Linked DNA regions of Homo sapiens. The protein of the gene in region 3 interacts with the protein of the main gene of each other region in a biochemical or structural test. Each region holds a gene or a part of one and is shown on either strand. Other genes may lie near its edges. The genes, in order: ZNRF1, ZNRF2 and ATP1A1.

Region 1 (3,751 bases), on a different chromosome or scaffold from region 3:
TTTTCCCCTTTTAAAAACTTTATTTTATTGTGGTAAGACTAACATATGCTCTATCCTCTTAACAAATCTTCAAGTGTACAACATAGTATTGTCAACTGTAGGCACTATGTTGTATGGCAGATGTCTAGAACTTACTCATCGTGCATAACTAAAATGTTATACCCATTAATCCACCACTCCCCTTCCCCCCGCCCAGCCCCTGGCCACCACTAGTCTACTCTCTGCTTCTATGAGTTTGAGTATTTTAGCTACCTCATGTAAGTGGAATCACACCAGAGGTTTTCTTTTGGGGCGATGAAGTGTTTAGAACCAGATAAAGATGGGGGTTGTGAATGTCTTAAATGCTATTAAATTGCACATATAAAAATGGTTAATTTTATGGTGAGTTTCATCTCAATGTTTAAAAAGAAAGAAACAAAAGTGACCCCGCTCACCATCCCAAAAAGAAGGAATGGAAGGAAGCTACTTGCACCCATGGGAACCCACTGGTTTTTATTAAGTCCTATGGCATTCTGCGTGCCGGCGACAGTGAATAGCCATGATCTCGGGATTCAAGCAGCTCACAGACTAGCAGGGATGCCGAACAAGGAAATCAAAAGGCACAGCATGAGGACTTCCAGGACATCTTCTCACGCGCAGGCCCAGGGCTGAGGGTATGGGGAAAGAGACCTCATCAGGATGGGGGCTGATCTGGGAAGGTTCTGGAGAAGGTGGAGGATGGATGAAGCTGGGGTGGGGACGGGAGATTCTGGGCACAGGGAACAGCCTTGTGTTCTGCTGTGGTGTCTGGGGCCGACAACAAGGAGTGCGCAGCAGCCCTGCGTGTGCGGATGAGGGCAGCGGGACACACAGCAGGTGCCTGCACTAAGGGAGGGTGCCCAGGAGGAAAGCATGAGAAGGAAGGGACGGATTCTGAGTTGGGTGGGAGGAGGCCCGGCCAGCTGATGGAGACCTCCAGGAGGCTGCTGAAGCCTAGAGCTGAGGTTTGGAACAGAGACATGGGTGCCAGGCATGGATGTGGGATAAAGAGGCAGTCCAGGGAGAAAGTTCAGACCAAAATCCAAAGAAGGCAGAAGACAAACCCAGGCCGACATGAATATTTGAAGGGCAGGTGAAAAGAGGCGACGTGAACAAAAGGCGACCCAGAAGTCCTCCAAGCCACAGGAGAAATATCAGGAGAGCAGTGTCTCAGCTGTGAAGAAGGCAGAGCTTGTGGCAGGATCCCTTCTCCGTCACTAAAGGAACTTAACTGTCCCGAACACTGCCAATGACAAACACATGTGCGTGTCTTCCTTTGAGCATCACCATCTTCCAAGCTGGGCAGGGCACCCAGTGTTATTCTCATTTTGCGAATGAGGATCCGGAAGCCCAAGGAAGTCACACACCTCATGAGTGGGCTTGTGGGTTGTGGGGCTGGGACTGGGACCCTCTGCTTAAGAGGCCTTCCCATTGCTGTTTCTTTGTGTTCTCTTATTATTTTGGTGGAAAGGCAAACACCTGGGGCCCATAAAATGAAGATTCTTCAGGGCCCAGAAGGCTATGGCTTCCGCTCCTCAAAGCCCCCCACCAGGAACCCCAAGGAAAAAGCATAAAATGGAACCGATTCGATCCTTAAGTCCCCAGGCACATGAGTTGCGAGAGAAGTCACTCTCAGCTTCCTGGCCACCAGGACAACTTGTGGTCATTTTCTGTCTAGAACATCTGGCTAGCCCGAGGACCCACCTGAAAGGGTGACACAAACTGAGAAGGGAGATGGCACAGTCTGCTGCTGAAGTGTCTGTCCCCTCAGACTCCAAACATGGCAAGTAGTGGATGAACACATGGGTGTGATCCCCCTGCTTGAAAGCACTAGCTACCATACATATTCAAATGCATGTGTAGGCACAGATCAAAGTCTGGAAGGATGCACACACTTTCACAGTGGTAGAGGAAAGGAGGACTTGGAGAAAAATCCTTTTATGTATTTCTGTAGCGTTCGAATGTGCACTACTTTAGTTAAAAACCCTGATAAGGAAGCATACTGGTGTTTGCATTTTACTATGAAATGCATCAGAAGGATAAGATGGGTTGGTGGATGGATAAACGGGTCTAGTACACTGCAGACTCCAGGTGGTGCATGTGCTATGTAATAGGGGCGTTCTCTCTCTTTTTTTTTTGACATGGAGTCTCGCTCTATCGCCAGGATGGAGTGCAGTGGCATGATCTCAGCTCACTGCAACCTCCGCCTCAAGAGTTTCTCCTGCCTCAGCCTACTAAGTAGCTGGGACTACAGGTGCATGCCACCACACCCGGCTAATTTTTGTGTTTTTAGTAGAGACGGGGTCTCATCATGTTAGCCAGGATGGTCTTGATCTCTTGACCTCGTGATCCACCTACCTCGGCCTCCCAAAGTGCTGAGATTACAGGCGTGAGCCACCGCGCCCAGCAATAAGGGTGTTCTCTATACAATGCTTTCAGCTTTGCCGTACACTGGGTGCAGTGGCTCATGCCTGTAATTCCAGCATTCTGGGAGGCTGAGGCAGATGGATCACCTGAACTCAGGAGTTTGAGACCAGCCTGGCCAACATGGTGAAAGTCTGTCTCTATTAAAAAACCAAAAGTTAGCCTGCCATGGTGGCATGCACCTGTAGTCCCAGCTACTTGGGAGGCTGAGGCAGGAGAATCATTTGAACCCGGGAGGCAGAGATTACAGTGAGCCAAGATTGTGCCACTGTACTCCAGCCTGGGTGACAGAACGAGACTCTGTCTCAAAAAAACATAAAAACTTTGCTGTGTGTTTGACATTTTTCATAATAAAACAGAGGGAAAAACCTCAACAGAGATGGGAGGAAAAACAGCATAGCTTAGTGAGGGCAGAGTCGTCATGCAGACATTCTTGGACCTGTATTCCCCACTCTCTTTGTCTTGGACACCTCATCTATGACATGAGCGTATGGGCTATAGCCCTTAGTTTCCTCTAAAGCATTCCTTCCCCTCCATACTTAAGGAGGATTTCCTGGGAACATGGCAATTACTGATTCCTAAGTAGTTTATCTTTGCATTTTCTCCTACTGATTGGTAACTCAACTGTGAGCCCAAGGGACTAGTTAGAATTCTCTGGGTCCCATACAGCTTCCCACACCAGGTGTGTTCTCTCCCCATCTGTGTCAGCTCCAGGAGGGCACATGTGGTCTCCCTCATCGCCCCCCAGGAGGTGATGGATTCAGGGAAGGGAGAGGCAGGTATGAGGATAAGGCTTAGGCGCTTTATGACAAGACTGGACTTGACTCTCTTTTTGCACCGAACCTCACTAGGGGAAAGGGAAGGGGAAGGGGAAGGGGGCGCGAGGGCGATTCTTCTTGTCCTGGGGCGGAAGGCCTGTGCACTAAAGGACTCAGACTTGAGCAGAGGAAGGTTAGAGGCAGCCTTTCCTCACCACTCCACAAGGCGGTTTTATGCACAGTGCAGTGTTGTGCCTTTACCAGCTGGCCTGAGTCTGCTGCACTGGTGGGAAGAACTAAAATGTGCAGGCACCCCAACCAGGCTGGCACACGGCAGGGAGCACATTTCACTGGGACCAAGAGCCACTGGCTGCAAAAGGCCACCTGGAGGTTCCCGGCAATAGGAAGGAGTCAGGGTCTTTGACTCAGACAGCATGGGGAAGCCAGCAGTGCCCACACAGAGCCCAGTGCCCAGGGAGCAGCATTCTTCCACAGCAGGAGGCAGGAGGCACACAAACCCAGCAAGAGGTTGCAGTGGGCTGAGTACAACT
Region 2 (3,751 bases), on a different chromosome or scaffold from region 3:
GTTATTACCACTTCCCTGAAGTGCCCTCCCTTTCCCCATTTTTTTTTCTCTTGGCCCTAGAGATCCTACCCACTACTCCTACCCCATCCTGCACCCCATGCCTTTTCTCATTCTCTTGATCTCCATTTTTCTCTTATTGTTCTAGTATCTTTCAATAGGAGATTCAGATAGGGAACAAGTTTAACGTGAAGCATCTAACTGATAGCAGTGAGAACAAAAAGAAAAAGGATCTAAAGGAGACACTAAAAAAACCTGGTAAAGGTCTATAATTCCAAGTAATATGGTATATTCTCACCACTTACGTATTTTTTCATCACAAAGGTATACCATTCTTATCAAAGAATTATGTGAGTGTAAGTTTCACAACCACCTTCAAAAAGTTAACCACCACTTTTTATCAAACCTAAAACATCAATGGTCATAATATGCACCATTAGCTTTATATACCACCAAGTAAAAAAAAAATGCTTCCACCAAACTATGATGCAACATCGATTTTAGACGCATCTCATTTTCAGAGCTCTTCAAAGTCTTTGAGATGAGAATATTTTAAAAGGTCTACATTTTATCCTATTTATAAGAAAATTTATAGTACAACAAAGACAAATCCAACCTGCCTATAATTAACAGAATGATACATATTTTAAGAACACAATGCTATTTTAAAATTGACAGGGGCGAGACTTATCCCTCAGATGCTTTGCAGGTACTAAGTTTAAACAATCTTTTTAGTGTAATTCAGAATGCTGGGTTAAAGTCATTTAAAAAATAAGCTCCCTTAAACCCTAGCAATAAAAAATAATCAGAACTGTACTTCAGAATTGTATTTTCTGTTCAAGAAAAGTATACCTGTATACAAAAACATCCCGAACACACTGATTTCAGTGCAGAAACAGCCTAATATCCACTAAAAATAGCTTCTAGTGACATAATCTCTGCTCAGAAAATTAAAAGCTAATGTTAACATATTGTAGCCACTGATCAGTTGCATTTTGATAAGCAACTCTGAGTTAGAAGATAGTTCACTCTGACTTCAAAACCTCATGATTACAGCTTCACATAGCAAATGCTTAATTTTCACATTTTAAAGTCTTGTTTCCACTAGAATGTGTCTTTGTATGTTTAAAAATATTTTCAGTTTTGAAAATTCACTGTGGAATGTGATTAATTTTTGCCTACCTGGGGGTTTGCTAGAGTAGTCCCCTCTCTCACCCCTATAATGACACTTTCATTCAGAGGAAAGTTTTGAGCTTTTGCCTTCACATAGGTAACTACATTTCACAATTGTGAAAGACTTGTTAGTAATGTGATACATTCATACTTAAAAACAGGACCTGGAAATACCACTAAACCCAGGATACTAAAGCATCTTCAAGACAGTTGGGAAAAGATTAAAAATCTAAAGATCAGTTGAAAACATTTATGAAGATAACACCCACAGGGATTAAGGAGTCAACACTTCAGAACTGGAATATCTTGGGGTAGACTACTAACTAGCCAAAACTCATTAAAGAAGCAGAGAAGGGAACACTCACAGATTTAACTACCATAGTTGGCTAGTCTGGATTCCTCCTCCACAAGCTATGATCAATGGAGACACAAGAGATTGTCAACAGGGAACTAAACATGTTGCTTTTTAAAAAGTGTTATTGCTCATACCTCAACATCTAGAGTAGTAAAAGTTAAATGAGCGCATTGCTTATCAGTTTAATGCCTTGTCTTATTCATGTAATCTATGCATTAATTTAGATGTACTGATTACAGGAAAAGAAAAGTTAAAAGACTGGAAAAGAGCAATGATTACGATTTTTAACCAGAAGTGGGCACTAGAATCACTTCAATGGGTGCATTTTCAACATATACCAAAAAATTATATGTACCTGAGTCCCACCCCTGGAGATTCTGAAATATATGCCTGCCTCACAAATGCGACTGCTATCAAAGAATAGCTTGTTTAAGTAGAAAGAGCCTAAGATTTAAAGTTGAAAACTTAATATGAATTTCCATTCTCACGAACAAAAATGTTCGTCAACCTCAAGTTTCCTTTTATTCTTCTGTTAAAAGTACTCAAAATATTAGAGATGAAATTTTAAAGAATTGTGTGAAAAAACTTTATAAGTTATAAAAAAACACTATACAAAATGTTAGTTATTATCAGATAGTACTTCATGCACCTCTCCAAAAACAAAGTCAGTCATCTTCCTATTTCTTTTTCTCTCCATCTTGGTATTCCACTTGTTTCAAACCTGAACAATGTCATCAAATAACTCCATGAAGACCAGGAACTTAGGCGCCTATTATAACTGCCAGGCTGGGAACAACTCCAAGCATATGACACTGTCTAATTAATTTATGTTTTGGCTTCATTCTATATTTTAAAAGGATTAAAAACGTGTACTTTTTAATGTGCTTTTGACATATTTAAGTCACATGTTAATCCTATGAAGTAACTATTGTTACCTTCATTTTACACATAAGGAAACTGAGGCTCAAAGAAGTAAAGTAACTTACCAGAAGTTACTAAACTACTAAGTCCTGAGGTCAGGATTCAAATTTAGACTAAGTCCTTGGCATTTTTCCTACTTCATGAATTCTGCTACAAGAAACAATTTCACTTTAAAGCAACGTAAATACCAAAGCAACTGGACTGTTTTAAACAACTAAGTTTTAAATACTCAAGCTACATATTTAGAGGAAGTACTCTCAAGACTGGTCACACGCTTTATCTTCTGGATAAAATAACTGAAACGACCTTACAATTAACTGCTTACACAATTTAAAACAGCTCTGTCCAATAGAACTATGGACGGTGATGAAAAAACATCTTTTATCTGTGCTGTCCACAATGGTAACCACTAGCCACATATGGCCTGAAAACAGCACTTGAAATGTGGCCTGTGCAACTGAGAAACTGAATTTTTAATTTAATTTTGGTAAAATATGAAACCTTAAAATATATAATAGGTAATGAATATACATTTATAAACTAGTTACAAACTTCTGTTACTTGATATTTCACTTACAGCTTCTCAAGCTCTTAAAATTTGCATTGTCCAAAGAAATTACTTAAAATTCAAGCAGCCAAATATGCAAAATTAAAATACTTAGCAGGTCCAAGCACATATCCATATAGTTATTGCAGATCAAGACGACATGGAAAAAAAAAAAAGCAAACAGCCAAAATTCTTTAAAAAAAAAAACAAAAAACCAAACCAACAAATAAGACTGAATTTGTTAGGCAGCCAAGGAAACTTCATGCGAAAATTTCATAATCATCACAACTTTATTTTCAGATCAAGCATCCAAACAGGTATATGATCTTTTCAGCAAAATACAACGCCAAGCGCTATTATGGATCAGGCATTTTACCTGAAGACTTATTTTTTGTTCTTGAACCCTCAATGATAGCAGTAGAAAACAAAAGCAGCTGAAATGTGAAATAATCCCTAGAAAAATCAAGAATTAAAAAAATTTACAACATTAGTGAAAAGCAATTACTCAAAGAACAAAAAGTTGGGGCTCACAAGTTTTAATAATAAATACTTTCAGATATTAAGTTATCTCTTATACGTATAAAAGAACGTAACATTAACTAATTCTTTCAATTACAGATCCATGAGCTATTACTGTACTCAAATATAAATAGGCTTAGAAATGATATTTAACAAAGGGAAGTTGCCATTTTCACTGTAAGATAAATATATCAGTAAAAATATGGGAATAACGTTTATTAATCTGGGCTTCTCTGCCT
Region 3 (3,751 bases):
CCAGAATCACAAAGTAAGTAAAGAAGCCTCCCAGGGCCTGGATCATTCCTAAGTTGGGAAAACAACCCAATTACTAGAACCTCACACACAAGGGTACCTGTATAGCCTTCAGCTGATTACTGCAGCAGGCCTGGGAGAGCACATATGGAGGAGTGTTTCCCCCTGGTTGATAAAAGCACAGGAAAGAATTGCCTGGTCACTCACAGGCTATGAGGGATGGGATGGAGGACCCCAGGCATACACTCCAATCTCAGGGCCCTCTGCTTTTTGAGTCACTTTTTGGAGCCTACACAAAGACACATGTGCCTTGCTCTCAAAATGCCCACCTGTTACTTGACCAGCTGCTTCTAAGGGTATGACCTTTAGGGGAAATCCACTTCCCTACTTTTTAATCTCTGACAAATGATAACTTCTTTTCCATCTTTCAAAATTCCTACATGCTGCCATTTTTCTAGCCACTGTGGCACTTTCTGACTCTCCTCCCCACCTTCAGGACCCTCCTCCCCCTGGCATCCAATTTAACCACGCTGCTCCAAGTTCCTCAGGGCAGGGTTTCATCCTAAACCACCAGAGACCTAGTCTTCCTTCCTCTCAAAAGCAGGCCTCCTTGGAGAAGGTCAGGATGGGCCACCAGCCAATTACTTTGTTGCCAACAACTGTCTAATGAATCTTTGCCATAATTTCCACAATATTCTATCTAATCTGTTCTTCTTTATCCAAGCGTTCACAGTTATGTGACCCATTAATCCAGGAGAATAAGACATCCATGGTGGCTTTGCCAGGTTCTCTTGAAGGAACCCTAGGCAGAGGATTTAAAAACAAATGGCATGCTGATTGCCCACCACCTGGATCACCTGTTAGCTAGTCATGCTGCACTGTGGGGGCAGAAGTCCAGTGTGAGGTGGATGGAGGATCACCCTTTGGTGGTGACCTACCAGCCAAACTCTCAAACACATATACTTTCTCCAATGCCTAACTCCATCCAAGTGAGTGACAGATAAGTGTGTATCTCCAGGGAAAGCAGCCTGTGCGTCAGTACACACAATTCCTTAGAACCATGCCTCCTGTTCCGCAAGGCTCAGTGAGGAAGGACATCCTCATTTCTCAGGCAGAGTTGAGCCCAGTTCCAAGGTGCTCAGTATAGAAAACCAGTTTCCACAAAAGGTAACTGGGCAAACAGCAACAGATGTATTCTCACATGGAAGAGAGTTCAGAGAAACTCCACAGGCTCACTCCGTTAGGGCTCATCCTAGACCTGAAAGTCGCCTGGATTTGCAGTCTCTGAAATCAACCTCAACCTGAGGTGGACACCATCACCTCAGATGCCTTAGATGTGCCAGCTTCCCACTCCAGGCTGCAGCTTACCAATCTGCCCATAGGCCATGCTGATCAGCCGCTCATTCACAAGTTTGTCTGTTTTGGGATTTCTGGGCTGTCTCTTCATGATGTCACTCTCAGCCTGCTCATAAGCCAGGGAGATGGCAGGAACCTGGGAAGGGGTGGGGAGAAGGAATTTAGTTACTAAAAATAAGGAAGCTAATATTGTGAACCTTTTGTTATAAAATTCTTGCCCTCCCATTTAAAAATCTTTTAGGTGAAGTATACAAAAATAAAGATTCCCATCTGATAAACAAATGTTAACTGCTGCCTTGAAGAGTGGTAATACTGATTCTGTGAAGCCGGGATTGGGACACACACTGGATACTGGTCCTGAGAATTTCTTTTCCCAACGCCAGCCTCATGGATGCTGGGAGCATAGTGCCAGTGAATGAAGACACAGCTCACACCTCACTACTATCGATCTGTGACTGTTGTGACACTCACCATGTCAGTGCCCAAGTCAATGCAGAGGATGGTGACAGTCCCCAGTGGTAGTGGAATGTTTGCAATAATAAATATCAGGAACGGGGTGATCTCGGGAATGTTACTGGTTAAGGTATAAGCAATGGATTTCTTCAAGTTATCAAAGATCAGACGACCTATGAAAACCAAGATTTTTTACTGTTAGCTTATGAGACAAGCACACTGGAAACTGAACATATCCAAGAAGTATACAGAAATGGATGCTAATGGGCAGTATCTGAATAAGATCTTGGTGTACACCTTAAATAGCTCTCACCTTCCTCTACTCCAGTCACAATTGAGGCAAAGTTGTCATCCAGAAGAATCATGTCAGCAGCTTGCTTGGACACATCTGAGCCAGCAATCCCCATAGCAACCCCAATGTCTGCTTTCTTCAAAGCTGGAGAGTCATTCACACCGTCACCAGTCACAGCCACGATAGCACCCTACCCCAGAAAAGGGAAAACGGGTTAATACCAATCACTTTTCCTAGCGATGGAAATAGTGCGATGCATGCCCCCACTGAGCACTCATTACAGACACTGCTCCTTTCCTATTGAGACTATTTATGAAGCCTGAGAACCGTCACAGGCAAGTATTCACACAGGCCCTACACCAAATAACAGAACTGAGAAGTGACAACAAACATAGCCCCCAGCATTAACAAGAGCTACTCAAAGTAATGACTCTGGTGGGTGGCACTCCAGAAAATGCCATTCCTGTATGCACGCCCTGTAGTCTGACCACTCACATCTCTATTGCAAATACTAGGACCCCATATCAGATGACTCCACGGAGCGGTCAGGCTCTGGGACACAGTGGACACCTGGACTTTAAAGTGCTTCTGTCACTGCTAAACCATTAACAAGTCACCCTCTCTATGCCTATGAGCTTCCTACTGGCCTATTTATACTGAGTCTAATACAGCGAGGTATGCATCCATCCATCACCGTTGCTCTGTTTCCACTGGAACTCCAATCCCTAAAGCCAATAGTGCCCAAAGCAGCCTGATCCTTGTGCTGGCTGACCTGTCTTTGGCAGCCTTCCACAATGATGAGCTTCTGCTGAGGGGAGGTCCTGGCAAACACTATCTCAGTGTGGTACTTCAAAATGTCATCCAGCTGCTCGGAGGTCATGTCCTTTAGATCACTGCCGTGTACTACGCAGGCCTTGGCATCCCTAGAATTAGGACAAAAAAAAAAAAAAAGTCACGCATCACATCACCAGCATGTGTCCATCACCTCAAGAGGGGATATTCTTATGCAGATCACTTTGTAAACAAAACAAAGAAGGAATTTTCCCCAGCACATAAAAGCTATTAAGTGTTCAGTACTTTACAGGTTACAGAGCATTTTCATATATTTTATCTCATTTGAGGCTCATGATGATCTCTAAGGCAGGCCTGTCTGTATTCTTCCTTTCCCTATCTTTATTAGACATGCTGAAATATAACCAAGTTTTAGCTGGGTGTGTGGCTCATGCCTGTAATCCCAGCACTTTGGGAGGCTGAGGTGAGTGGATCACTTGAGGTCAGGAGTTCGAGACCAGCTTGCCAAAATGGTGGTCTAAAAATTCAAAAATTAGCCGGGCATGGTGGTTGGGGCCTGTAATCCCAGCTACTTGGGAGGCTGAGGCAGGAGAATCACTTGAACTCAGGAGGTGGAGGTTGCAGTGAGCCAAGATCATGACACTGCACTCCAACCGGGATGACAGAGCGAGACTCCATCAAAGAAAAAAAGAAATATAACCAAGTTTTAGAAAGTGGCAGAGCTGATACAAGACCAAACCCTCCTCTAACCGTAACATAGGGTGAAAGGGCCCTAAACCTTAAAACAAAACCAATTTGCTATTATCTGTTTTACTTCATTGCCAAATGTCTCCTGTGTTTGCCTGAATGGCCTAAGTAATT

What was found.
Region 1: of the proteins of ATP1A1 (region 3) and ZNRF1, one has a biochemical effect on the other in vitro, tested with the Homo sapiens proteins (one study listed by BioGRID).
Region 2: of the proteins of ATP1A1 (region 3) and ZNRF2, one has a biochemical effect on the other in vitro, tested with the Homo sapiens proteins (one study listed by BioGRID).

Annotation. Positions count from the first base shown.
Region 1 is NC_000016.10:75,099,950-75,103,700, reverse strand, and holds part of ZNRF1 (E3 ubiquitin-protein ligase ZNRF1), read right to left. Parts: intron 1-3,751. UniProt on the Homo sapiens protein: E3 ubiquitin-protein ligase that plays a role in different processes including cell differentiation, receptor recycling or regulation of inflammation. Mediates the ubiquitination of AKT1 and GLUL, thereby playing a role in neuron cells differentiation.
Region 2 is NC_000007.14:30,350,456-30,354,206, reverse strand, and holds part of ZNRF2 (E3 ubiquitin-protein ligase ZNRF2), read right to left. Parts: intron 3,447-3,751; exon of another isoform or gene 3,370-3,446; intron 1-3,369. UniProt on the Homo sapiens protein: E3 ubiquitin-protein ligase that plays a role in the establishment and maintenance of neuronal transmission and plasticity. Ubiquitinates the Na(+)/K(+) ATPase alpha-1 subunit/ATP1A1 and thereby influences its endocytosis and/or degradation.
Region 3 is NC_000001.11:116,397,158-116,400,908, reverse strand, and holds part of ATP1A1 (sodium/potassium-transporting ATPase subunit alpha-1), read right to left. Parts: intron 3,022-3,751; coding exon 2,871-3,021; intron 2,289-2,870; coding exon 2,120-2,288; intron 1,980-2,119; coding exon 1,825-1,979; exon of another isoform or gene 1,595-1,824; intron 1,490-1,594; coding exon 1,366-1,489; intron 49-1,365; coding exon 1-48. UniProt on the Homo sapiens protein: This is the catalytic component of the active enzyme, which catalyzes the hydrolysis of ATP coupled with the exchange of sodium and potassium ions across the plasma membrane.